Linked DNA regions of Homo sapiens. The protein of the gene in region 4 purifies or fractionates together with the protein of the main gene of each other region. This does not show direct contact. Each region holds a gene or a part of one and is shown on either strand. Other genes may lie near its edges. The genes, in order: PDCD4, SEC23IP, C12orf57, OSBPL11, LZIC, FAM114A1 and FTO.

Region 1 (4,011 bases), on a different chromosome or scaffold from region 4:
GAGACATTTCAAGGTGATATATAAAGAACTACCAGGGGGTGAGGAAGCATATGGGGAGATGTGTGGAGACACAGCCTGAAAGTCTTGAAGTCACATCACGGAGCCTTGAATGACCGACCGAGGCGCTGACACTCAAGAGAGGCAATGGGAAGCCAGTGAAGGTTTGTGTGTGTGTGTGTGCGTGTGTGTGCAGAGAAATAGTAGCATTAGAGATGATTCCCAGGCAGGGTGACTGGGCAGCCAAGGGAAAGCGCTGGCCTGTGCGGGATGAGGCAGTTGGGTTCTGGAGAGCACAAGCAATCATTCGGTGCTGCCCATCAGACAACTGAAAAATCTGATCAGAGGCAGTGGCTAAGTCCCCGCCTGGGAACACAAAGGAAGCCTAAGGTTCTGGTTATCACCCTCAGGGGACCGTGACCTTGAAAGAGTAAGGATAGTACCAGCCAAAACCAATGCAGCCAAGAGGAAAAGTCACAGAGAACAGCGAGGGGAGGTGGAAGTTTCAATACAGAAATTGTAGCCATGGCTGAGAACCCCAGCACTGGAGGCCGGAATTTGTGCGTTTGAACGCCAGAGGCTTGGCTAGTCATGATTAGCAAAGGAACTTCAAAGAGTTTTGGAGCCTGCTTTATATCTGTGAAATGGGAATTATTTCCATCTCAAAGGTTTGAGGGGATTCGCTGAGAGAAACTTCTTAGCATGGGATCTCCAGAAACTGGAAGCCACAGAGAAAGCAGCGGCCAGAGGGAGGAGGAATCGGACAGGCTGATCACTTGGAGTGTTCGCCTAAGCAGTTTCTAGAAATGGAGGCAGGGACCATCAGGAAGCTCAAAACCTTTGCTTCAGCCGAGTTTGCAGAACGCCCTGTGAGGAGAATGGGTGAGCTGGGTCGAGGAAGCTTCATCCTCGTCCCCATCCCCCAGCACTGCCCTTTTCCCAACGCTCCCATCCCGCCACGCCTCCCAACATACCCCCACCCCGACTTCCCGCTCAACTCCCGCTCCAGCCAGTCCCAGGAGCCACATGCGCATGCGCCCTCCCGCGCCCCTCCCCAACTTTCCACGTTTCACTCCTCTCCCTTTTCCTCCTCAGCTCCGGCTCCGCCGCCACGATTGGCCAGCCGACCACCCGGCCTCGGCCAATAAGCGCCGCCCTCTCGCCCCCGTGTTACTGGGTAGAAGAAAACAAAAACAAACAGAGCGAGAAGGGCCAGAGACTCTCCGAGGCGGCGGCAGAGACAGAAGAGCGGGGTCGGGGCCGGCTGACCAGGAACCTGGGCGAGCAGCGGCGGGGGCCCGAGGGGTCAGTACCAGTAGGCGCGGCTCACACGCTCGGGAAGACTGCGCCCTCTCCCCCATCCCTCCTCGGAGGCAGCCGCAAGATGGGAGGGGGCGGGGGCGGAGGCGTGGGGGTCGCGGTCCTGTCAGGTCCGGGCCTGCGGTGCGGGGGTCCGGCTGCCTTCTTGTAGCCCCGCAGGTCCAGCCGCGCCCTCCCCAACGCCCCGGACTGCGGGCATCCGGCCTGGTTCCCTCTTTCTGAGCCCAGCCTGGAGCGTGTCGGCGCGGGCCCGCCCCCTCCCGGAGCCATCTCCCCACTGAGAGGGGCGCGCGAGGCGCTCGCCCTTGAAGGTCCCCCTCAGCCCTCCTCCCCCTCTGGCGGAGGTTGAATTCGGGGGCCGGGATTGGAAGGCGTGTTTCCGGCTGGACTGAAATCCTGTGAGGAAGATTCGCGCCCTCCCCGCCCCCTGCCCTCCCTGGGAATCCTCTGAAGATGCGGCCCCCTGTCCTTCGTGAACCCGGAGCCCCGGCCTCGGCCCCGGCCCAGCCCCTTCCGGGGGCCGACCCGGGCTGGGACTTCGGGGGTCCTAGCCTGAGCCCGCTGCGGGAGAACAGGCCCGGCCGCTGTGGGGAGGGGCCGCGCGCTATCCTCGCCGGGGGCGCTGGGAGGCGAACACGTGCCCGCCGCCCCATCCCTGCGCGAACTTCGTCGCGCCCGTCTTCCGGCAAAGGGTCTCTTTTTTTTAGTTTAGGTAAAATAAAATCTCCCAGAGAAAACAAAGCCGGGAAGGGAGCCCCCTTTCTGTGAAACGCATGCCATCTTCTCCATTTGTCAGTTTGATGCTGTAACGTACATGGGGTTTTGCAAGAGCTTCAAAACTGTCTGCAGACGTCAATTTCGCCCCCCTCCCCCTTGTGAGAACTCGCTACGTAGCCAGCAACTGTGTAGTGTCTACAAATGATGAAAACGATCAGAAATGCGATTAGGTGTCGGGGAAAAAAGGGTTTCCCCTGTTTTTAACTTGTATTTTTACTTTAATTGTTACAATCTTGATATTCTTAACGTGACTTTTTTGGGAAACCACCAAGTGCTTTTTAAGCAAGGAGTTACTGGTATTTATGCCCTTAATATTCCTTCATTATAGGCTTATTGAATACGTTAATATCTCAGTAAGTGTATTTGAATTATAATTGACTGGCTTTTTCTGTGGTACTAATGTGAAAGGAAAAAATATTAGGACTGCAAAAATAAATGCCGCTTGAATATTATCTGTAGTGCTTGCTTTTGCATTACTGTAGTAGAATGCTTTTAGCTGGTTTTAAGCTGCTAATTAGCCGTTCGTAGCCGAAGAATGAATACAAGTAATCCTAGTTAATAAATGGCCAAAGCTTGACTCCCCAAAATGCCAGAGCAATTTATGAGGTATATTTCAGGAAATACATATGTATATATTTCGTGGGGGAGTGGAGGGTCTGTCTCTTAGGGAATGTCTTGGCAGTTGAATACTTCTGATTGTATATTTCGTGTAACACACTGGAGAAAAGAACAGTGTTTAATGTCAGCCTTCATTTTCTTCTAACTTGTATGTATAGTTTTCTCATCGAAAATTCATTTTTGTAGGTTAGTATGAAGGAAATAGCGTTTGGATTTTTTGCTTTATATTTTCTTGTTTGGGCCAATTAAGGGTTGTTAAATAAATTGGAAAAAATCCTACTACTTTAAAGAGCGTAAAAACGTGGAACATGTCTTATCTAAACTCTTAAAACGTGTTTGTTGCTGTCAAATATGACTTGAGTTCCTGATCGGGTTATCATTGCCTAAAGACACAGGACTATTTTTTTTATTAAGATAACTTTGTTTTTATCTTAATAAAAGAGATGATAGTCATTTCCTGACAGTTTTGTCTGACGGAATGCCTTCTGTATAATAGTTTAAAATAATTATTTTTAGTGTTTGGAAAACAGCATTTAAAAGTTTGAACAGCAGAAGTCTGTTTTAAGAAGCTTCTGTTAACCCTTGAAAAGAATCTTCCTGTGGGATATTAAAATTTTGGATTGAACTTGTGCAAACAGTACTGGATTTGGAAGGTCTGGATTCTCATCCTGGCTGTTCCACTAAGCAGCTGTCTGTCCTTGGACATATCACCTACCCTCTCTGAATCTGTTTAGTTGTGTGTAAGGTGGAATACCTACCCGAAGGTTTTTCTGTAAGGTACATTAAATAATACATGTACAATTCTTTTTGAATTGTAAAGGGCTTTATGAACATCAATTATAATCATTTCGCTTATTAGGTTCTGCAGAAAGTATTCTCTCAAAAGTTATACTTTCATCAAGAATGAAAAAGACTTTGTAATGGAACTCTAAAAAACTGAAACACGTATCATATGACATTATTCCTTTCCTATATGTATTTCATGCATGGAATTAAAACAGAATGTAGCCTTTTCAGCCATGAAGGATGCTGAGTGTTTAGATTTGCAAACCATTTTTGTTCATATATTTATATGAATCTCTACATATTTTTAAGATTTTTTTTTCATATCTAAAGTTGGCGGGAGTTATAGTGAAAAGTGATTATAAAGATTCACATATATTAATTTATTCTTAACAGAATTAGAGAATGATCTCACCATTTTCTTAAGTTCCCAAGCAATATGATAGCATATTAGTCTGAGGATTATACCATAGTAAGAAGCCTATAATTTTAACATAAGGTCCATTTGTTTTTGTT
Region 2 (3,500 bases), on a different chromosome or scaffold from region 4:
GTAAAAATAAGTGTTGTCTAGAGACATAGGAGAATTGAAGCGGTTATTGTCTTAACAGACTGCTAGTTTCTCATCTTTCAATTACACTAGTCAATCAAAACACTCAATTACAGGGACTAAAATTGATTACTTCAGTAATTTCTTTATGGAGTTTGGATCTAGATCAGTCAAACTCTATCTAGGGAGAGTTGGTGGAATAACGTATGCATTGGGTAAATTTCATGAAATTCCCTTATGCATTTTTCCCAACTAATTGTTTATTTGATTTCCAAAGAAAAATCAACAGAATTAAACAAAAAGAGAAATGATTAAAAAGAATTAAGAACCCATTTCAGTGTGGTGGAGATAGCAGTATTGTGATCAGAATGTAACTAACTTCTCTGTTAGAGATAGAGAATGGACTCTGTTTTATCATTTCATTTAAATCATACCAATACACAAATTTTTGACAATGTTGGATTTCGGCATTCTGAAAAGTAACCAGATTCATAGCATGTGGTATATAGTTAGTATTTTTGCTAACTATAACAAACTAATTGTAGTTTGTTGCTTAAATTTTTAAAAAGGTTTTTAGATAAAAGTTTAAAAAATGATAATTTCAAACTTGAAGAAAAGTTGCAAAAATAAAAAGAGTACAAAGAGCACTCTAATATCCTTTACTCAGGTTTACTTATCATTAACATTTCATCCCGTTTGTTTTTTAATTTGTGCATGTGCACACCCTGGCATATGTGAGCCCTCCCTCTTCCCCCATCCCTTTCTCCTGCCCCTTCCTCCTGCTTCTCCTCCTGCCCCTCCCTCTTCCCTCCCTTCCCCTCATCGTTTTTTTCTCTTTCTGTATATATGCAATTTTGGGGGGAATATTTGAAGGTCAGTAAAATACATTATGATTCTTTACTCCTAAATTCCTGGTGTACATTTGCTAAGCATAAGGACATTCTTCTTATGTGCACAGTGCAGCTATGAATCTCAGGAAATTGAGTGTTGATGTAATACTTCAAAATGATTTTTTAGAAATTATATATGTGTATGTATATGTACGTGTGTGTGTATGTGTGTGTGTGTGTGTATATATATATATATAAAATTTTTTTTTTTGAGGCCAGGTCTTGCTCTGTCACTCAGGCTAGAGTGCAGTGGCATGGTAACGGCTCACTGTAGCCTCGAATTCTCAGGTTCAAGTGATCCCCCTACCTCAGCCTCACCAGTAGCTGGGACCACAGGCACATGCTGCCATACCTGGCTAATTTTTTTTTTATGTTTTGTAGAAATGAGGTCTCACTATGTTGCCCAGGCTGGTCACAAACTCCTGGGCTCAAGCAGTCCTCCTGCCTTGACCTCCCAAAGTTCTGGGATTATGGGCTAAATTATATATTTTTTTGAGACTGGGTCTCACTCTGTTGTCCAGGTTGGAATGCAGTGGCGCAATCACAGCTCACCTGCAGTCTCAAACTCCTGGGCCTCAAGTGATCTTCCTGCCTCAGCCTACCAAAGTGCTGGGATTACAGGTGTGAGCCACCACACCTGTCCCAAAATGGTGTCTAATTAAAAAATTTTAAAATAAGTCTAGTCTGATTTTAAAATCGTTTTTGTAGAAAATTTGAAAAATGCAGAATACTCAATTTAATAAAAAATGTCCATAGATAACCACTGTTTTCATTTTGTTATATGTCTTTTTTTGGCAAACATATAATACCTATGGTTTCTATAATCTATTTTTTTTTTGTGTGAACATACTTTAAATGTTACTAAGATTTTTTCTAAAACATTAAAATTTTTTTCTTTTTCTTCTTCTTTTTTTTTTTTTTAAAGAGTGGGGGGGGGGTCTTGCTCTGTCATCCAGGGTGGAGTGCAGTGGTGTGATTACAGCTCACTGCAACCTTGAACTACACTTCAGCCTCAGGAGTAGCTGGGACTACAAGTGTGCCCCACCATGTCCGTGTGATTTTTAGATTTTTTTGTAGAAACGGTATTGCTGTGTTGCTCATGTTGGGCTCAAACTCCTGGCCTCAAATGATCCTCCTTCCTTGGCCTCCCAAAGTTCTGGGATTATAGGTGTGAACCATCGTGTCTATCCTCTAAAACTTTTATTTTTGTTTATTTACTTATTTTTTTTTTTAGCTATCTCCTGCAGAAAGGATATAAGACATTTTTAATGGCGCTGGAGGATCTAGCATTTGAGTTAAATATTATTTAATCAGGTTTCTGTTAGACATTTTGATTATTTCCAGTGATTTCCTATTTTATTTATTTTTTTGCAAACATTCCAAATTTATTAGCTATGATTTTATAATCAACATTATTGAGGTATAATTTACATACAGTAAAAGGCATCCATTTACAGTATACAATTCGATTTATTTAAAGTGTACAATTAGCTGAGTTTTGACAGTTGTACACACCAATTTCCTATTTTAAATAACCTTTTGATGTATATCCTTGGGGATAACTTTTTATTTTTATTTTTTATTTATTGTTTGAGACAGAGTCTCTGTCACTCAGGCTGGAGTGCAGTGGTGCAGTCTCAGCTCACTGCAACCTCCGCCTCCCGGGTTCAAGCGATTCTCCTGCCTCAGCCTCCCAAGTAGCTGGGATTGCAGGCCTGTGCCACCACGCCCAGCTAATTTTTGTATTTTTAGTGGAGACAGGGTTTCACCATGTTGGCCCGGCTTGTCTCGAACTCCTGACCTTAGGTGATCCACCCACCTCAGCCTCCCAAAGTGGCAGGATTACAGGTGTGAGCCACTGCACCTGGGCTATTTGTTTTTATAATTCTATCTTTAGGATAAATTTTTAGAAATGGAATGAGTAGGTCAAGGAGTAGGCACATTTTAAAGGTTAAATAGGCCGGGTGTGGTGGCTCACACCTGTAATCCCAACACTTTGAGAGGTCAAGGCGGGCTGGTCACTTGAGGTTGGGAGTTCGCAACCAGCCTGACCAACCTGGAGAAACCCTGTCTCTACTAAAAATACAAAATTAGCTGAGTGTGGTGGCGCATGCCTGTAATCCCAGCTACTTGGGAGGCTGAGGCAGGAGAATCGCTTGAACTCGGGAGACGGAGGCTGTGCATTGCGCCGTTGCACTCCAGGCTGGGCAAGAAGAGCAAACTCCGCCTCACACACACAAAAAAGGTTAAATAAATCATGGGAGATGTATTGCTAGATTGATTTCTGTAAAGGTGTTAGTTTACTTTGTGTTCTGTGAGAAGGTCTGGTTCACCTTGTAATTGATTTTTTTCTAAATTTTTTAATTTTTAATTTTTGTGGGTACATAGTAGGTATATATGTTTATGGGTTACATGAGATATTTTGATACAGGCATGCAATGTGTAATCATCACATCAGGATAAATGGGGTATAGATATCCCTCACCTCAAGCATTTATCCTTGATTTGGGGTTTTGTTAGGTTTAAAAATTCTTCTTAAAATTGCTTTGGGGTCTAGTTATTACACTAAGTAATTGTCCAGATATACATGTAGGATAATCTACTAACATCAGT
Region 3 (3,729 bases), on a different chromosome or scaffold from region 4:
ACAGTGAGTCATGATCGCACCACTGCACTCTAGCCTGGGTGACAGAGCAAGGCCCTATCTCAAAACAAACAAACAAAAGACACCCCAACCAACCAAACACTAGAGGCCTGGGACAGGCCCACCTCTGACGTGGTCAGTTCTAGGAATCTATTCAGACGGGTCTCACTGCTAGGAGCCACCAGAGTCCTCCGGAACAAGGGCTTCAGAGTCCTGAAACCTTTCCGTGGAATACTTTAAGAAACGGTTATGAGGCCAGGCGCGACGGCTCACGCTGGTAATCCCAGGACTTTGGGAGGCCGAGGCGGGCGGATCACGAGGTCAGGAGTTCCAGACCAGCTTGGCCAACATGGCAAAACCCTGTCTCTACTAAAAACAAAACATTAGCTGGGCATGGTGGCGCGCGCCTGTCGTCCCAGCGACTTGGGAGGTTGAGGCAGGAGAATCGCTTGAACCCGGGAGGTGGAGGTTATGGTGAGCCAAGATCCCCCCCAGCTGCACTCCAGCTTGGCGACAGAGCAAGACTCCGTCTCAAAAACAAAAAACAAAGCCGGTTATGAAGCGGGGGTGGGGTGGGCTAGTTTTAATAGGTCCAGGCGATTAGTACCTGGCATCCTTAACCACCTACAGTTTGAGAAGGGAGTGGGTGATAAAAGCCTGGAAGGGAAGGGAAATCGGGCCGGGCATTAGGCTCCATCGCTCATCAATAGACAAGGCCTTTAGGAAACTGCGACAACGGCTTTTGCTCTGGGCCTTTACTGCCGAATCCAGGTCTCCGGGCTTAACAACAACGAAGGGGCTGTGACTGGCTGCTTTCTCAACCAATCAGCACCGAACTCATTTGCATGGGCTGAGAACAAATGTTCGCGAACTCTAGAAATGAATGACTTAAGTAAGTTCCTTAGAATATTATTTTTCCTACTGAAAGTTACCACATGCGTCGTTGTTTATACAGTAATAGGAACAAGAAAAAAGTCACCTAAGCTCACCCTCATCAATTGTGGAGTTCCTTTATATCCCATCTTCTCTCCAAACACATACGCAGCAGTGTTACAGCTCTTTTAGAATTTGTCTAGTAGGCTTTCTGGCTTTTTACCGGAAAGCCCCTCTTATGATGTTTGTTGCCAATGATAGATTGTTTTCACTGTGCAAAAATTATGGGTAGTTTTGGTGGTCTTGATGCAGTTGTAAGCTTGGGGTATGAAGGTTTGGGCCACGCCTGGGCGCTTCCGGCTGCGCCGGATGCTGTTTCCTTTCCGCTCCCAGGGGCGTTGGGAACGGTTGTAGGACGTGGCTCTTTATTCGTGAGTTTTCCATTTACCTCCGCTGAACCTAGAGCTTCAGACGCCCTATGGCGTCCGCCTCGACCCAACCGGCGGCCTTGAGCGCTGAGCAAGCAAAGGGTGAGAATCGTCCTAGTCAAGGCATAGGCTGCTGGCCTGGGGTAGTCAAGGCATGGGCTGCTGGTCTGGGGAGGATGCGGGCGGAGGATGTGGGGCGACAAACCTGGCTACGTCCGCCGGGAAAATGGGGTAGGGGACGCCGGGTACCGTCCTTCTAAGTGGGGCGCTTGCCCCCAAGACTTGGGATCTTATTGGGTTACCTACAGCCTCAATCCACTAATTCCTTGCGCTCTCCGCTGGGCCCGCTGTCTGTTCTCCGACGCCTACCCGGGACGCCTCCCTGGGATGCTTCTGGCGCGCAGTGGTCCTCGCGGAGGTGATCCAGGCGTTCTCCGCCCCGGAGAATGCAGTGCGCATGGACGAGGCTCGGGATAACGCCTGCAACGACATGGGTAAGATGCTGCAATTCGTGCTGCCCGTGGCCACGCAGATCCAGCAGGAGGTTATCAAAGCCTATGGCTTCAGCTGCGACGGGGAAGGTGGGTCAGACGCGGGAAGGCGGGTCAGACGCGGGAAGGCGGGAGTTGGGTCGGGAGAGGGCGCCGGATCTGTGGGCCCATGAGCGGTTGTCCCCTTTCTCGCCACACGGCGGCAGCCACAATCTGACTAACATTCTTGGCACTCAGAGCCCAGGGTCTACCCTGAGCTTGTGCGTCCGAGTTGCGTTTTGTACAGTAGAGGTTCTGTATCCCTTACCCGAAATGGTTGGGACCGGAAGTGTTTCGGGTTTTTTCAGATTTCGGAATATTTACATATACATGGATATCTTGGGGGATGGGACCTAAATCTGAACACGAAATTGTTTTGTTTCATATACACGCACCTTATGCACATAGCCTGAGGGTAATTTTATATAATAGTCTGAATAATTTTGTGCATGAGACAAAGTTTTGACTGCGTTTTGACTACAGTCTCCCCCACCCCCCACTATGAAGTCAGGTGTGGAATTTTCCATTTTCGGCCTCACACTGGCACTCATAATTTCAGATTTTGGATTTTCTAATTAAGGATGGTCAACCTGTACTGTTAATCACATTATTATTCCATTTTGTGATGAGGAAGCAAACTCTAATGGTGCAGACTCTCGAGTAGCAGAGCTGGACTTAAATGCTGTTGTGCCACCTTTTAGTGACATGTCTGCATGACAGCAGTGGCTGCAGTCTCTCCAGGGTGTTTCAGCTAATTTTTGTTTGGGGGGGGTTGGTGGTTAAATTTTTGGTGAGATCCTGGTGTTCCCCAAAGGTGTTGACTGATTCAGCTCTGCTGCCTCATAGCCTTCCTGAGTTCCAGCTACAGACCTGGGGTCTCGTGTTCATTCTTGGGGTTCCAGTGACTAAACTGCTAAAATGGTTCACCTGAGAGCAAGAAGCACACTGCCTTGGGACATTTTCATTCACTGCATCCCATCTAGTTGTGCCCAGTGTAGACCAAATGTCATCATCCAAACCACACGGGACAGAGGCCTGCATGCGTCCTGTTTGGCAAACAGCTGCCCAGCCAGTGGGGGAGCAGTTCATGCTTAGACTACCACCCCCTCCAGGTGTCTTAGGCACGCTGGTCCTTAGGAGAAGGGTTGACCTTCCACTCCCTCTTGCAGGTGTCCTTAAGTTTGCTCGCTTGGTCAAGTCCTACGAAGCCCAGGATCCTGAGATCGCCAGCCTGTCAGGCAAGCTGAAGGCGCTGTTTCTGCCGCCCATGACCCTGCCACCCCATGGGCCTGCTGCTGGTGGCAGCGTGGCCGCCTCCTGAGAGTTGGCCCTCCCTTGTGCCACTGCCAGGGGAGGAAAGGCCTTGATGTTCCAGACAATAATAAATGCGCCTGTGACTTAGCCTTGGTGTCAGTCTCTTGCGGACCTGACAACCCCCATCTCTCCTTCCCTGATTCCCTCTGCCTTTCCAGGCCCCATCCCCCTGAACAGCTCCTCCCTATGGTCCTGGCTGGGCCTAACCCTGCCCCAGGGCCTAACCCTACCTGAGGCTCCTCCCCTTCCCCCGGGGCAGGTTGAGAGGCTGGAGTGGGTCCCTCAGCGCCCTGGGTGGGTGGGCCTGCACAGGGGGTACCTCCTTCTCTGAGGAACTGGGCTGTTAGGGATTTTCCTTAGGCCCTTTGGTTTCCGCCTACGGAGAGGTTTCCCCCATTGGTTGCTCTTCCTCAGCCAGGGTTACTTCCTGGTCTGTTCCCCTACCCAATACCCCGCCGCTCTGTCAGCTTGAGCTCCAGGTGGAGCTCCAGGTGGCTCCTCCTCTCCCGGGGGAAGGCGGCCCTGGACCAGCAGGCGGGCCTGCTGTACTCCCGCTTTGGGGCTGCAGGGAAGCTGGCCGCTGTGGG
Region 4 (4,014 bases):
AAAATATTTTTAAAGGAATATTGGTATTTAATGTTGACATTTTAATAAGAGATATCAAGCATATTAAAAAGAAAAATATTAAGACCTAACAGGAAATGTATAAAAAACACATATGTAGATGTTTCACAAAAGAAAAAAAAATGATCATAAAGAAAAATGAACTAAAAATGCATCAGAAACCTAAACATAAGCACTAAAACAAAACTCCTAGACAAACACATAAGTGTAAATCTTTGTCATCTTAAACTTCACAATGTTTTTTTAGATGTGACACAAAACTATAACAAGAGAAGAAAAAACTCATTAGACTTCATGAAAATTAAAAACCATTGTGCTGCAAACAATATCATCAAGAAAGTTGTAAACCAAAAATAACATTCGAAGGCACCTCACAACCAACTTAATAGACTCCCGGCTCTCTCCAGACCCAAATGTGAATGCCAGGGCCGCGGCGGCGCCCCACCCACAGCCCCATAGCAGGTCAGGACGAAGCGCCACGGACAGGGGACCCGCGGCCCCTGCCACAGGTCACACACATACAAAAAAATCATGCTGATTCCAAAAGCGGGCCTAGACCTCTCAAACTAACTGAATATATCTTCTTATCCTACAGTCACTTACCAATAAAAAGTTATCTTCTGGCCAGGCGCGGTGGCTCAAGCCTGTAATCCCGGCACTTTGGGAAGCAGAGGAGGGCTGATCACTTGAGGTCAGGAGTTCGAGACCAGCCTGGCCAACATGGTGAAACCCCATCTCTACTAAAAATACAAAAATTAGCCAGGTGTGGTGGCGCACGCCTGTAATCCCAGCTACTCGGGAGGCTGAGACACGAGAATCGCTTGAACCCAGGAGGTGGAGGTGGTAGTGAGCCGAGATCGCGCCACCACACTCCAGCCTGGGTGACAGAGCCAGACTCTGCCTCAAAAAAAAAAAAAAAATTATAATCTTCTATACTTCACTTCTATATGTTAATATAGTCATGCATATTTCATACATATGAATATTATTCATGATAAATGTATATCCCTCACAAAATCTTGGCTTTAATCCCTTCCAAGTTTCACAAAAATTTCACAAGCACAAATAAGCACAAAGGCTAAAAAGGACTACAGTTAGGCACATAGGAGTCAATCAAAACTTAAGAATTCATCCCTTTAGTTCCAATACGATGGGATGTGCTGGTTTGTTTCATTCATTCTTAAGGTTCTGGATAGTTCTTTCTCCCTACACTTCATATATGAAAAAACAAAAACAAAACTTGTTGCCTCTCCAGGACTCTCCTCCTGTTCCTTAAGTTGTTCATTCATATTAGTGAAAATTAACAAATATAGACTTTCTCATCAACACAGAGAGCATTGAAGTGGCCTGAGCAACGCAAACTGAACATCTCCAGGCTCAGGTTTAGTTTATCAGAGGCATTAGGATCTCTACCTTTGTCCTTGCATTCCAATTACTTATGTACATTCCCCTTTCCAAGTCACAAATACCTTCAGGGCAAGAATCTTTTCTGATTCTGGAGAAGCTCTGGACAAGTAAGTTTTGAGCACCAGTATTTGCTACCCTCTCGAGAAAGCTGAGTTAAACAGTTCCTGCCCTCGCAGTCTATCAGAGAAAGCTGGCTTGTAAATAAATTGCAACATAGGCAAAAGCAGAAGTGAGTACAGAATTAAATCTGAGGAAGCATTAACTCTCTGACTGTAGAGGAAGTTCAGGGATACATTTCTGTGTTCCTCAAAAGGCCTTCCATAAATACCTGTTGAATGAACAAATGAATGGATTAAATCTTTTAGGCGAGGTCCCAGATCCAAACGAGATGTATCAGTAGCTTCTGGAAGCCAGTGAAAAAACTTTTATCTTTCAACAATTGCGGGATGCAGCCTCCAGGGCATATTCACCCCTACCTCCACCTCGGGAAATAATTTTGGAGAAAGGAGCATACCTGTACTGCCAGCCTTTTGCACTGCCACCGCGGCTGCTGCTGCTGCTACTGATTCCACCTCCACAGCTGCTGTTCTTGTTCGGGGTCACCGCTGTGGCCTGGCCCTCCAGCTTTCCTTCGCTCTCCGAGACTTTCATTGTGGACACTGGTTCACCCCCCTGCATCTTAACGCCAAAGTCCACTTGCCCTTCTTGAGCGGGAGAGAACAATTCTGTAGTTCTGTAGGTGACTTTTTTTTTTTAAGATTTGATCTGAATATGATACCGGTTGCTAAATCACACGGCGGCTGGGGCGGGACTGTCAAATGGTCCAGAAAAGGAAGATACACATTCCCACAGAAGTTAAACTTTTGAGAGGGCAGGGGAAGCAACGAGGACAGATATCCTTCACATGTATCTCTCTCCTTTCCGGCAAAAGCAAGGAGGAAAAAGCATCCGGCGAGAAGACTTAAGTGACATACTCAAAAGAGAAGGAGTGTGGGGAGGTCGCAGATTCTGTAGCCAAGACGGCTGGGAAAAGGACGGAGCGCCACGGACAGGGGACCCGCGGCCTAACCTCGGGGCTGACCCGCCGCGCTCCCTCGTCTCCTCCGCAGGTCCTCAGGCAGTGCGTCCAGTCAAGCCCGCTCGGCAGTTCCCGCCGCAGCCCCCGAGATACAGCCAGGGCCGGCGCGCGCAGCCGGGGAGGAGGGTCGGGGAATGAGGCCGCCGGGGGCGGGACGCCGGCTCCCGGGGCCGCCTCTCCCAGGGCCAGAGGCGAGCCACTCGGGACAACTTCCTCTTATGCCCCTGGCCCGGGCCCTCGACTGGGTTCCCAGGAGCCGGTGAGTCTCTCGCGCTATCTCCAGACCCAAGCGCGAATGCCAGGGCCGCGGCCGCCGCCCCACCCACAGCCCCACAGCCCCACAGCCCCACAGCGGGTCAGCCACCCCCCGCCCCCTGCTCCCTTCCCGCCTTCCCTTCCGGAGTAGCGTGAGCTCACTTCCCTCACAGCCGAAGCGTCTGGCGCCATCTTGGGTCAGGGCGGCGGGTCCCTGAAGGAGGCGGAGGCTCTGGGAGCTGGTAGCTGGGCGACTGGCTGATGGGCGAGGGAGGGCGAGGGAGGGCGCCGCAACGGAACGAGGAACCCGGACAGTGAAGGAGGAAGAAACAAAGGAGCCAGCAGCACTAGAGAGTTCCCTTCTGGTGTGTGAGTGCCCGCCTTCCTTTTTTTTTTTTTTTTTTTTGAGACGGAGTCTCGCTCTGTCGCCCAGGCTGGAGTGCAGTGGCGCGATCTCGGCTCACTGCAAGCTCCGCCTCCCGGATTCACGCCATTCTCCTGCCTCAGCCTCCCAAGTAGCTGGGACTACAGGCACCCGCCACTACGCCCGGCTAGTTTTTTGTATTTTTAGTAGAGACGGGGTTTCACCGTTTTAGCCGGGATGGTCTCGATCTCCTGACCTCGTGATCCGCCCGCCTCGGCCTCCCAAAGTGCTGGGATTACAGGCGTGAGCCACCGCGCCCGGCCGAGTGCCCGCCTTCCTAACCACGTCCTAGCCTTCCATTTGAGGGGCCGTTCCAGGCATTTTAGGAAGAAAGCTTACAAAAATAAGAAAGTACAAGAACGAAGCAAACATCTGTACGTTTTAGTTACTTGGGGTGGGGGGGGGGCAAGCATGACATTGGAGTAAAGCCAATCATTATTATAAATTAAAAAGAAGCTGTCATGGAAATTAGAGATCTCAGAACAGAGCTAGGTACTCTTCCAGACCCCAGACAAATCTTTCACCTTGTTTAGGCCTTGGTTTTGGATTTGTAAAACAAGAGTGCATGGGTAGATTTCTAAAGTCTCTCCTAATTGCTAATTTTAGTTTATAATAACATGACTTGAGGCTGGGCACAGTGGCTCACGCCTGTAATCCCAGCACTTTGGGAGGCCGAGGTGGGCGGATCACTTGAGGTCAGGAGTTCGAGACCAGCCTGGCCAACATGGTGAAACCCATTCTCAACTAAAAATACAAAAATTAACCGGGCATGGTGGTGCGTGCCCGTAATCCCAGCTACTTAAGAGGCTGAGACAGAAGAATCACTTGAGCC
Region 5 (3,500 bases), on a different chromosome or scaffold from region 4:
CTGGCTAACACGATGAAACCCCGTCTCTACTAAAAAATACAAAAAAAATAAGCTGGGCGTGGTGGCGGGTGCCTATAGTCCTAGCTACTCGGGAGGCTGAGGCAGGAGAATGGTGTGAACCCGGGAGGCGGAGCTTGCAGTGAGCTGAGATTGCTCCACTGCACTCCAGCCTGGGCGACAGAGCAAGACTCTGTCTCAAAACAAACAAAAAACATGTTTTAATAAGTTACCTGGAAAGTTTTGTGGTTTGTTTTTTGTTTTTTGTTTTTTTTTGAGTAGGAGTCTCACTCTGTCTCCCAGGCTGGAGTGCAGTGTCACAATCTCAGCTCACTGCAACCTCTGCCTCCAAGGCTTGGATGATTCTCCCACCTCAGCCCGCCAAGTAGCTGGGACTACAAGCACACACCACCATGCCCAGCTAATATTTTAATTTATTGTAGAGACGGGGTTTCGCCGTGTCGGCCAGGCTGGTCTGTAACTCCTGGTCTCAAGTGATCTGCCTGCCTTAGCCTCCTAAAGTGCTGGGATTACAGGTGTGAGACACCATGCCTGGCCCCAGTCAATAGGATATTTAATGAAACTTGACATACTGATTGTTAAATTCATCTGGAAGAGAAAGTGCACAAGAAGAGCCAAGAATTTTGGGGAGGAGAAAACAATAAAGGCAAGTCATTATCAGTTATCGAGATATATCAGTGATAAAGCCATAATAATGTAAATAGCAAGAAATGTTGCCTGAGGGCTGGACACAGTGGCTCATGCCTGTAATCCCAGCATTTTAGGAGGCCAAGGCCAACATGGCGAAACACTGTCTCTACTAAAAATACCAAAAAAAAAAAAAAAAAAAAAGGCAGATGTGGTGGCACACCTGTAATCCTAGCTACTCAGGAGGCTGAGGCAGGAGAATCACTTGAGCCCAGGATGTGGAGGTTGCAGTGAGCTGAGATCACATCACTGCACTCCAGCCTACTGCACTCCAGCCTGGGTGACAGAGCGATACTCTGTGTCAAAAAAAAAAGAAAAAAAAAAAAGCCAAGTGGGGTGCCTCATGCCTGTAATCCTAGCACTTTGGGAGGCTGGGGTGAGTGGATCATTTGAGGTCAGGAGTTCAAGACCGACCTGGCCAATATGGCAAAACCACATTTCTACTAAAAATACAAAAATTAGCCGGACGTGGTGGCACGCACTCAAGAGGCTGAGGCAGGAGAATTGCTGAAACCCAGGAGGTGGAGGTTGCAGTGAGCCGAAATCGTGCCACCGCACTCCAGTCGGGGCGACAGAGCAAGACTCAGTCTAAAAAAAAAAGAAGTGATTCCTTAGGAACAGAAAATTATCAATGACTAGCCAATTGCCCTAATACCCTTTACTAGTCAGTCTTTTATTTATTAATCAATATGCCACCTTTATTGTAGACCAAATTCTCCTGGATCAATAAATAAAAGACTGATTAGTAAAGGGTGTTTTTGAAAGGAAAGTTAGACCCCTACTTCAAAGCATAACAAAAAATGTTGCAGGTGGCTTTTGTCTGCAGCTAGAAAACAAAAATTTGTAAAAGTCTTGAATATAAAGATGTATAAATCTTGAGATGGTTAGGGCCTGCCTTCATGGGTCACAAAACGAAGAAGATTTAAAGGAGAAGATAGATTTGTCTATTAAAAAATAATAATTTGCCATGACAAAAAAACATAAAATTTAGTCAGGAGACGAAATAATATTTGCAATTACAAAGGCTTCATTGCTTGATCTTAGGAGGTCAAAGCTGCATGAGCCATGATCATGCCACTGCACTCCAGCCTGGGTGACAGAGCAAGACCCTGTCTCAAAAAAGCCAAAGGCTTTGTATCCATGTTATAAATCAGTAAGAGAAAGATAACCCAGCAGAAAGATGGTCACATTTCCAAAGAAGAAATTCATATTAAAAGATGTTCATCAGCTGGGCTTGTGGGCTTACACCTATAATCCCAGCATTTTGGGAGGCTGAGGTGGGAGGATCTCTTGAGCCCAGTTCAAGACCAGCTTGGGCAACATGGGAGACCCCATCTCTACAAAAAAATAAATTAGCCAGGTGTGGTGGTGTGTGCCTGTGTTTGCAGCTACTCAGGAGGCAGAGGTGGGAAGATGGCTTGAGCTCGAGAGGTTGAGGCTATAGTGAGCTATGATTGTGCCACTGTGCTTCAGCCTAGGCAACAGAGTGAGACCCTATCTCAAAAAAAAGTTCATGCTCACAAGTAATTAGGTCAATATACATAAGACCAATAAGATAATATCTGGAGTGTTTGGGGCTATAATGATTCATTTTATAAAGCAAAGTCACATTTGATCTACATATATATATATATTTCCATTTACCAAATTTGTTTAGAGTAAGATAGACCAATAATGAAGACTTCTAATTAATATGTCAAGTCACATAAAGAGGACTTTCAGGTATTTTTGTGGGGTGTTATTACTATATGAGTTTAAACTTTTATATCTAAATTAAGATTTTCTTTGTTTAACTATCTTTCATATACCTGTAGCTTTTTTTTTTTTTTTTTTTTTTTTGAGTCAGGGTCTCGCTCTGTCAACCAGGCCAGAGTGGAGTGGCAAGATCATGGCTCACTGCAACCTCAAATTCCTGGGCTCAAGCAGTCCTCTCACCTAAGCCTCCTGAGTAGGTGGGACTAGAGGCATCCGCCACCATGCCTAGCTAAGATTGTCTATTCTTTGTAGAGATGAAGTCTCACTATATTGGCCAGGCTGGTCTCGAACTCCTGGGCTCAAGCAATCCTCCCACCTCAGGCTCCCAAAGTGTTGAGATTACAGACATGCGTGAGCCACTGCACCCAGCTGCCTTTTTTTTTTTCTGAAATGTAGTCTCACTCTGTTGCCCAAGCTGGAGTGCAGTGGCGTGATCTCAGCTCACTGCAACCTCTGCCTCCCAGGTTCAAGCAAGCCTGCTGCCTCAGCCTCCCAAATAGCTGGGACTACAGGTAATTTTTTTTTCTTTTTTTTTTTTTGAGCCTGAGTCTTGCTCTGTCGCCCAGGCAGGAGTGCAGTGGCGTGATCTCGGCTCACTGCAAGCTCTGCCTCCCGCGTTCACACCATTCTCCTGCCTCAGCCTCCCAAGTAGCTGGGACTACAGGCGCCTGCCACCACGCCTGCCTAATTTTTTATATTTTTAGGAGAGACGGGGTTTCACCGTGTTAGCCGGGATGGTCTCAATCTCCTGACTTCATGATCCGCCCACCTCAGCCTCCCAAAGTGCTGGGATTACAGGCGTGAGCACCGTGCCTGGCCTTTTTTTCTCTTTAGAGATGGGGTTTCCCCCATGTTGCTCAGGCTGGTCTTGAACTCCTGACCTCAGGTGATCCACCCACCTCGGCTTCCAAAAGTGCTGGGGTTACAGGCGTGAGCCACCACATCCGGCCTTTTTTGTATTTTTAGTAGAGATGGGGTTTCACCATGTTAGCCAGGATGGTCTTGATCTCCTGACCTTGTGATCCACCCGCCTCGGCCTC
Region 6 (3,500 bases), on a different chromosome or scaffold from region 4:
CATCCCTGGATATTTTCAGGGGCTCTATTTTGGCTCCTGTGTCTGTCTAATAATACGAGGGTACTTAGGCCTATGTTAATTTTCCACATCACAGTATACAGTCATGTGCATAAAAGTTAAAGGCTTATTTTTCAGCTCCATACCAACTATTTTCATGAATGCTCCATATCAACTATTTTCATGTATATTCACTAGATTGCATATTCATATATGTTACACATATATTTTAATTTTACTTAATAAACTAATGATAATAGCTATTATTTATTGAAGAACATGATATAGGACAACACATACATGCACACATACAACCCACAGTGAACTGGTTAATATTAGTGACCGTCATCACTGGAGTTTGGAACGTGGAGACCTGGTATAAGTCCCCAGGAGCAGTGGAGTGTATTTGCCTATTTTGTGAATCTAGCTAGAAGTTACATTAAAGTGTCCTTTCTCTATTCATGTATATGTTGAAAATGTAATTACCCTCAAAAGGTTTTACTTCTAAGACTTTGATCTATTAAATAAGTACTTTCACGCCTCATGCAATGATTTAGTGTGTTTTCCCTTAAATCTCTTCATAAATAATTCCTAGAATGGCTAGTTAAGTCTTCTTCTTGCTAACATAATGCACTTGCTAAAGAAATCCTTATTTCTGGCTAGGCGTGGTGGCTCACGACTGTAATCCCAGCACTTTGGGAGGCCGAGGCAGGCAGATCACAAGGTCAAGAGATGGAGACCATCCTGGCCAACATGGTGAAAACCCGTCTCTACTAAAAATACAAAAATTAGCTGGATGTGGTGGTGCGCACCTGTAATCCCAGCTACTCGGGAGGCTGAGGCAGGAGAATCGCTTGAACCTGGGAGGCGGAGGTTGCAGTGAGTTGAGATCGTGACACTGTACTCCAACCTGGTGACAGAGCGAGACTCTGTCTCAAAAAAAAAAAAAAATCCTTATTTCTTAAGATGACCGTAGAACAATGGAATTGGTTGACTTGAAATTTGAATCTTTGGCCAGGTATGGTGGCTCATGCCTGTAATCGTAGCACTTTAGGAGGCTGAGGCAGGAGGACTGCTTGAGCTCAGGAGTTTGAGACCAGCCTGGGCAACGTGGCCAGGCCTGGTCTCTGCAATTAATTAAAAAATTAGCTGGATGTGGTGGCACGCACCTGTGGTCCCAACTCCAGGGGAGACTGAGGCAGGAGGGTCACGTGAGCCCAGGAGTTTGGGGCTGCAGTGAGTCATGATCATGCCATTGCACTCCAGTCTGGGTGACAGAGTGAGATCCCGTCTCAACAAAACAAAAAACAAAAACAAACAAAAAGAAACCTGAATCTTCTAGTGGCTTAGAGGGTGTGGGTGTGTATGTGTGTATCTGAATGGTACCTATATATAAAACTGGGAAAATAAGAATTTAAAGTAACATTTACTTACTTTATTAGAACTTTTGCTTGGTCCTGAGCTGGTTTTTCCTCTTCTTGTCCATGAAGAATTAATTCTGCTACTTTATGAAGCTGCTCAATACAGCGCGCTGTTACCTCCGCCAGACTTTCAATGGACGACATGTATACTTCCTGAAATGAATAGACACAAGCAAGAAATTTTTTACTGAGCAGATGCTTTTTTAAAAAAATGCTGTGACATTAGAAGTGATATAATTCTTTCAAAAATACCCCAAATATAACCCGAAATAGTTAACCTGATGATTACAAGCATATCTAAGACTTTAAGTGTAATGTTGCCAGGAAGGGCTGTAAAGCCCCCACGGATGTGGCAGGTCTGTTCACAGCTGCATCCCCAGTGCTTACAGCAATGCTGGGTACAAAACAGGCAGGTGCTAAAGAAGGTGTGTGGAAGGCCGGCTGAATGAACAGAGCTCAATGGATATTTTTCCTTACAGTGATCTAATCACTGCAACCTCCACCGCCCAGGTTTAAGCAATTCTCATACCTCAGCCTCCCAAGTAGCTGAGAGTACAGGCACACGCCACCACGCCCTGCTAATTATTATTATTATTATTTTGTATTTTTACTAGAGACAGGGTTTCACCATGTTGGCCAGGCTGGTCTCAAACTTATATTTCTATAACACGGAACAAATGAAAAAGAAATGGCCTCTCCTCAATTAAAATTAAGCTGCTAATAAAATGAACACACTCTTATTACCTTGTAGGCAGACAATCTAGAATGAATTTACCTCTATGGTCTTAGTTTTCTTTTCCTCCTTTTTGTCTTCTTGAGGGTCTTGAGATTTCTCTTCCTTTTCTTCCTTCTTTGTTTCTTCTTCGGACACTTTTGCCACATCTACTGACACCACGGTTTGATCCTCTTCCACCCAGTCATGAGCCCTCTTCATGGCCTGCAGAGGTCCCCAACCAAACAATCCTTTTATGGCGCAAATATGGAAACTAAGTCATTCCAACCCCAAGACTAGAATCAAGTGTCTCTAAGCCTTCAAGAATGGATCTCTGTATGTTTGGAGGATGACGGGGCAATTTTTCAACCCCCGAAAAAGATAACCTTGTTGTTGCTTTCTGGTAAATATAAAGTAGAAAAGAGGGACAGAACAGAAGGTATGGAAAGAACAATGCAAGCCTGAGGACTCTTCAAAAAGCATTTAAAAATGATATTCAGATAAGAATAAAAATGACAGTCACATTGAAAAATCTATGGTATATTTTTCACTTTTCATGACCATCTATAAAAGAATAATAGTATTTTTAAAAATATGTGTTAGAAATTGAGCCATGGGGCCGCGGCTACAGCAAATGTCCTCATCTGATATATTTCAGGAAGCTCTTCATGTTTCATGAACCTAACAATGTATCATGCTGGGAAGGTGAAGAAGGGCTCTGCGTTTCTTGATTCATGACAGGTCTTCCACCCTCAAGGGGGAGAAGAGAAGCGCTGCTGGAAAGGTCTGGTGCTGCTCTGTGTCTAGTTTAATTTCACATGAGTGCAGTTTACGCACTCTGTGCCCTGCAAAATCATGGCTAAATTAAACAATCAGAAACCTCCTCCCCTGCCTGTTATTCCCTGAATTTAGAACGAAGGGGCAGACTCACTCCAATTTTATCATTATAGTTTAAGCTGTTTGCTTAAGTAAAAGTTGTTTTGGGGCTTACACTAAACTTACTTCCCACGTTAAATCTTACACGCCAAAGTTAAAAATATCAGAGTGTTGAATGGTAAGTTAACAGCAAGAAGATCTGGGGAGAGAAAACCCAGCAAAACTGTCCTCAGTGTGTCCTCTATTACAGACAAAGATTTAACCCTAAGCAAATAAGCCAGTGGAATCTCAGAGCCACCACATGCCCCCTCTGAGCAGTGGCAGATGCTGCACGGAGATGAATGAGGCAACTTCCCACTGTGTTCAAGTCACTGACCTGCCAGAATCAGTGACCCCCATCAGAGATAAAGAAATTACTCATCTCACCTCCTCATTCTGCCCTTTTCCTCACCCACCTGGATAAGTGAGTACCTATGTAAACCACTGCTTGCTAA
Region 7 (3,500 bases), on a different chromosome or scaffold from region 4:
CCTGGATGTAGATGTTTTCCTCTCTCTTGCTGACCCCTCCGCCAGTTTTGTCTTGTGATGCCATTAACACATCTCTCCCTTTCTGACCTGGCTCCTGCCCATTGGTGTCCCAAGAAATCGTGAGAATAGTTAGCCCCCCGTCTCCCCAGCCTGTTGCTTTCTCGTGTAGTTGTTCACAGTAGTTGAGAAGTTGAAGAGCTTTTGCCTATTGAAGGTGCACTGAGAATAAACTCTTTCCTGCCACCAGAATTGCAGTGGTTCACGGCCTGCACTCATTCCCATGAATGCAGTTAATAGCCACAGAAATGTCACATTAAGCAAAGCAGCCAGGGTCTCATCGTGTTGAGACTCGAGTCTCTCAGACCTTGGATTCATTCCCTGGTGTCTTTGAGCCTCAGTTTCCTCATTGGTAAAAGAGAAGTGAAGCAGTGTCTCACAGGGTCATTACAGAGATTAAATGAAATAAATGAAATAACATAGACCAGGAGGGCGTGGTGTTTAAAAGTCACAGATGGGGCACCCTCGGGCCATCCAGCCCAGTGTTTTCTTTAGCCCCTATGATGTTCATTTTTTGTTATATCCCATTAGGTGCCCATATTTAAAAATTGGGAGATTTCACATAAAATTAAAAGGTCTGCATTTTCTTTTTTCTTTTCTTTTTTTTTTTTTTTGAGACACAGTCTCACTCTGTCACCAGGCTAGAGTGCAGTGGCACGATCTCAGCTCACTGCAACCTCTGCCTCCCAGGTTCAAGTAATTCTCCTGCCTCAGCCTCCCAAGTAGCTGGGACTACAGGCACGTGCCACCACGCCCAGCTAATTTTTGTATTTTTAGCAGAGATGGGGTTTCACCACATTGGCCAGGATGGTCTCGATCTCAACCTCGTGATCCACCCACCTCGGTCTCCCAAAGCGCTGGGATTACAGGCGTGAGCCACCGCGCCAAGCCAAGGTCTGCATTTTTCTTTAGAACTCAGAACACCCAATAGTCCTAGGCCCCCATCCTCGCATGGCAGCAAGCTAAATAAGCATCTTCCCACTGCGAGTTGGGGCATGACCCAGCCTATGGTTTGCCATACTCCCTCTTTTTCTCCGTTTTTTCATTAATTGTGAACCTGACCTGCATCACCCTTTCATGTCAGTGCTCTCCAAACCTGCTTGCTTGCACCCCTCTAGTCGAAATATTTTGTGCTTACCCCAATATATGTGTGTGACTATTGAACTCTATTCGTAGACTGCTTGTACTAATGTCATTTGCATCATAAAATATTCATATCCAATAAACATATTAAAAGGATGAGATAAGAAACCGAGAGATTTTGCTGTTTTTTTCCTTTTGCATGGATGAGCCAGCTTCACTGTCCTGGGTGGGGCCCAGGTGGAATTAGTTCTCAAAGTCCTCCAGGTGGAGTCAGGGAATGTGCAACAGGGTTGGAGAAATCACTACTTTAAGTGAATCCGAAAGGTGAGATCACATTTGCTCTAAAGAAATGGTGATCCCAGCACTTTGGGAGGCTGAGGCAGCAGATCACTGGAGGTCAGGAGTTCGAGACCAGCCTGGCCAACACGGTGAAACCCCGTCTCTACTGAAAACACAAAAATTAGCTGGGTGTGGTGGTGTGTGCCTGTAATCCCAGCTACTCGGGAGGCTGAGGCAGGCAAATCGCTTGGCCCGGGAGGCGGAGGTTGCAGTGAGCCGAGATCATGCCACTGCACTCCAGCCTGGGCCACGGAGCGAGAGAAGAAAGAAATGGTGACTTTCATTGATCATGTGTTTGAGGATTTCATGTGCTCTCCAGGGAGGTTTCAGGTGGGTAGAAGGAGGTGGGCAAGACCCAATAAAAAAGCAGCTGGTGCGGGCAATGACAATGAACTCGTATCCTGCAGGGTCAAAGGAAGGCTTGCTTCTGCTGTGAATTGGAGAAGGACTTTCCTGGAAGCACAGGCCCAGAAATCGCACCCTTCTCCCCATGTGTGCGGATAAGGGACCACTTCCATCAGCAGCAGCCCCCTCCTGCTTTCCTGCCAGTCCTCCCTGTGGTCCCAGGTCTCTTGAGAAAAGTGATCTAAGAGATCCCTTTGCAATGAGGTGCTACTGACTGCCCTACCTCCCTCCCTTCCTCCCATGAATGTTTCTTGGTGCTGACCACAGCCTCAGCAATGAGGCAAGCCTGGGGACCCAAGACAGATCTCTGCCTCCCAGGCTAGTGGATGCCCTGGGATATGTAGTCACCAAAATAGGAACTTACCCCATAGTGGGGAAATAGACAGTAAGCAGCAAATCAATAACAAGAGTGTTCCAGATGGTTGTAAGTGCCAGGAAGGGAACCAACTGGGAGAGGGACAAGAGGAGATGGTGACTGACCAAGGGGACCTTGATCAGGCTGTGGGGAAGGGAGGTGGTTGGGAAGAGCTTCCCAGGAAAGGGGACGGCGGGCCCAGGCAGGAGAGCCTTGGGAGGGGGTGCCCAAGGAAGGAAAAGGGCCCTGAGCCTGAAGCCGAGAAGACCAGGAGGGGAGAAGGGGAGATGTAGGGCAGAGCAGACGGGAGCCGCTCGGGTTTTATTCCACACACCCCAGGAAGCATGAGAGGGTTTCAAGCAGCAAGGGCATGGAAGTAACTTGGTGAGATATTTTTATGCATTAGATCATCGCTCTATCTGGATTCCAGAGGGTCTCTGAGAGAGCAAACAGCTTAATCCAAAGGAGCGGCTTTCCAACTGGGAATGTCCCCCTGGCTGGGTGAGATCTCAAGATGGCCTGCGGCCCCTCTAGATTGCCTGCCTACAGAGTTCACTCTAAACAGCCCCTCCCCTCCACACCCCAGCAGATCCATTCCTGACGCCCTCACTGGCAGGCTCCAGCCCCACAGAGCTTTCTAGACATAAAAGAGCAGGGTCATGGCATCATTGGTGACACAATTTTAGTAATAAGCTTCAAAACCCATCACTCCACTGAATCCAGGGATGCCAGAATTGAGAGTCCATAGGACCCGTTTAACGGATCCCACATTCAGTAGACGGTTTTTTGTATGCTTCGAGGGAAGGAAGGTATTTTCAAATGCAACTTCTTTTTTTTTTTTCTTGCTCTAGTTAGGGCTGATTTTACCACTGGGCAAATTGCATACATTTGGATCCATGCCACGCTAAAAACTGTTTATTTTGGAGATCTGTCAGAGGCAAGCACATGGAAGACAAGGGGATTCTGGTTTGAAAAGGCAATTCTCATCCAGACAGATTCAGATGGAGAGGAGCGGTGTGGATTAAAATGCGCCGAAGTGGTAATGCCGTTTATCCCGTTTGCCTTTGTTACTCTGTGATTAAATGGTATTTTTAATTAAGTTTCATTGGGAGCCATAGGTATCGCGGTGGTGAAATCAATTTGACAACCATAAAGGGGAGAGACGGCACAGGCGTGTTGTGATGATTGCGGCTGTAGGGAAAGCCGGGCAGCTTGCAGAGGATGGGTGGGAGGAGGGGAAGCCGGCTAAGAATGACTTCCT

Evidence for each region.
Region 1: the proteins of OSBPL11 (region 4) and PDCD4 purify together in Homo sapiens (co-immunoprecipitation; one large-scale study listed by IntAct). This does not show direct contact.
Region 2: the proteins of OSBPL11 (region 4) and SEC23IP purify together in Homo sapiens (co-immunoprecipitation; one large-scale study listed by IntAct). This does not show direct contact.
Region 3: the proteins of OSBPL11 (region 4) and C12orf57 purify together in Homo sapiens (co-immunoprecipitation; one large-scale study listed by IntAct). This does not show direct contact.
Region 5: the proteins of OSBPL11 (region 4) and LZIC purify together in Homo sapiens (co-immunoprecipitation; one large-scale study listed by IntAct). This does not show direct contact.
Region 6: the proteins of OSBPL11 (region 4) and FAM114A1 purify together in Homo sapiens (co-immunoprecipitation; one large-scale study listed by IntAct). This does not show direct contact.
Region 7: the proteins of OSBPL11 (region 4) and FTO purify together in Homo sapiens (co-immunoprecipitation; one large-scale study listed by IntAct). This does not show direct contact.

Annotation. Positions count from the first base shown.
Region 1 is NC_000010.11:110,870,717-110,874,727, forward strand, and holds the start of PDCD4 (programmed cell death protein 4), read left to right. Parts: upstream 1-1,211; 5' UTR 1,212-1,302; intron 1,303-4,011. UniProt on the Homo sapiens protein: Inhibits translation initiation and cap-dependent translation. May excert its function by hindering the interaction between EIF4A1 and EIF4G. Inhibits the helicase activity of EIF4A. Modulates the activation of JUN kinase.
Region 2 is NC_000010.11:119,899,230-119,902,729, forward strand, and holds part of SEC23IP (SEC23-interacting protein), read left to right. Parts: intron 1-3,500. UniProt on the Homo sapiens protein: Plays a role in the organization of endoplasmic reticulum exit sites. Specifically binds to phosphatidylinositol 3-phosphate (PI(3)P), phosphatidylinositol 4-phosphate (PI(4)P) and phosphatidylinositol 5-phosphate (PI(5)P).
Region 3 is NC_000012.12:6,942,774-6,946,502, forward strand, and holds C12orf57 (protein C10), read left to right. Parts: upstream 1-1,248; 5' UTR 1,249-1,348; coding exon 1,349-1,400; intron 1,401-1,606; exon of another isoform or gene 1,607-1,702; coding exon 1,703-1,879; intron 1,880-2,997; coding exon 2,998-3,149; 3' UTR 3,150-3,229; downstream 3,230-3,729. UniProt on the Homo sapiens protein: In brain, may be required for corpus callosum development.
Region 4 is NC_000003.12:125,592,698-125,596,711, forward strand, and holds the start of OSBPL11 (oxysterol-binding protein-related protein 11), read right to left. Parts: upstream 2,801-4,014; 5' UTR 2,104-2,800; coding exon 1,940-2,103; intron 1-1,939. UniProt on the Homo sapiens protein: Plays a role in regulating ADIPOQ and FABP4 levels in differentiating adipocytes and is also involved in regulation of adipocyte triglyceride storage. Weakly binds 25-hydroxycholesterol. Interacts with OSBPL9 to function as lipid transfer proteins.
Region 5 is NC_000001.11:9,936,892-9,940,391, reverse strand, and holds part of LZIC (protein LZIC), read left to right. Parts: intron 1-3,500.
Region 6 is NC_000004.12:38,930,306-38,933,805, reverse strand, and holds part of FAM114A1 (protein NOXP20), read right to left. Parts: intron 2,356-3,500; coding exon 2,194-2,355; intron 1,572-2,193; coding exon 1,432-1,571; intron 1-1,431. UniProt on the Homo sapiens protein: May play a role in neuronal cell development.
Region 7 is NC_000016.10:54,113,156-54,116,655, forward strand, and holds part of FTO (alpha-ketoglutarate-dependent dioxygenase FTO), read left to right. Parts: 3' UTR 1-3,500.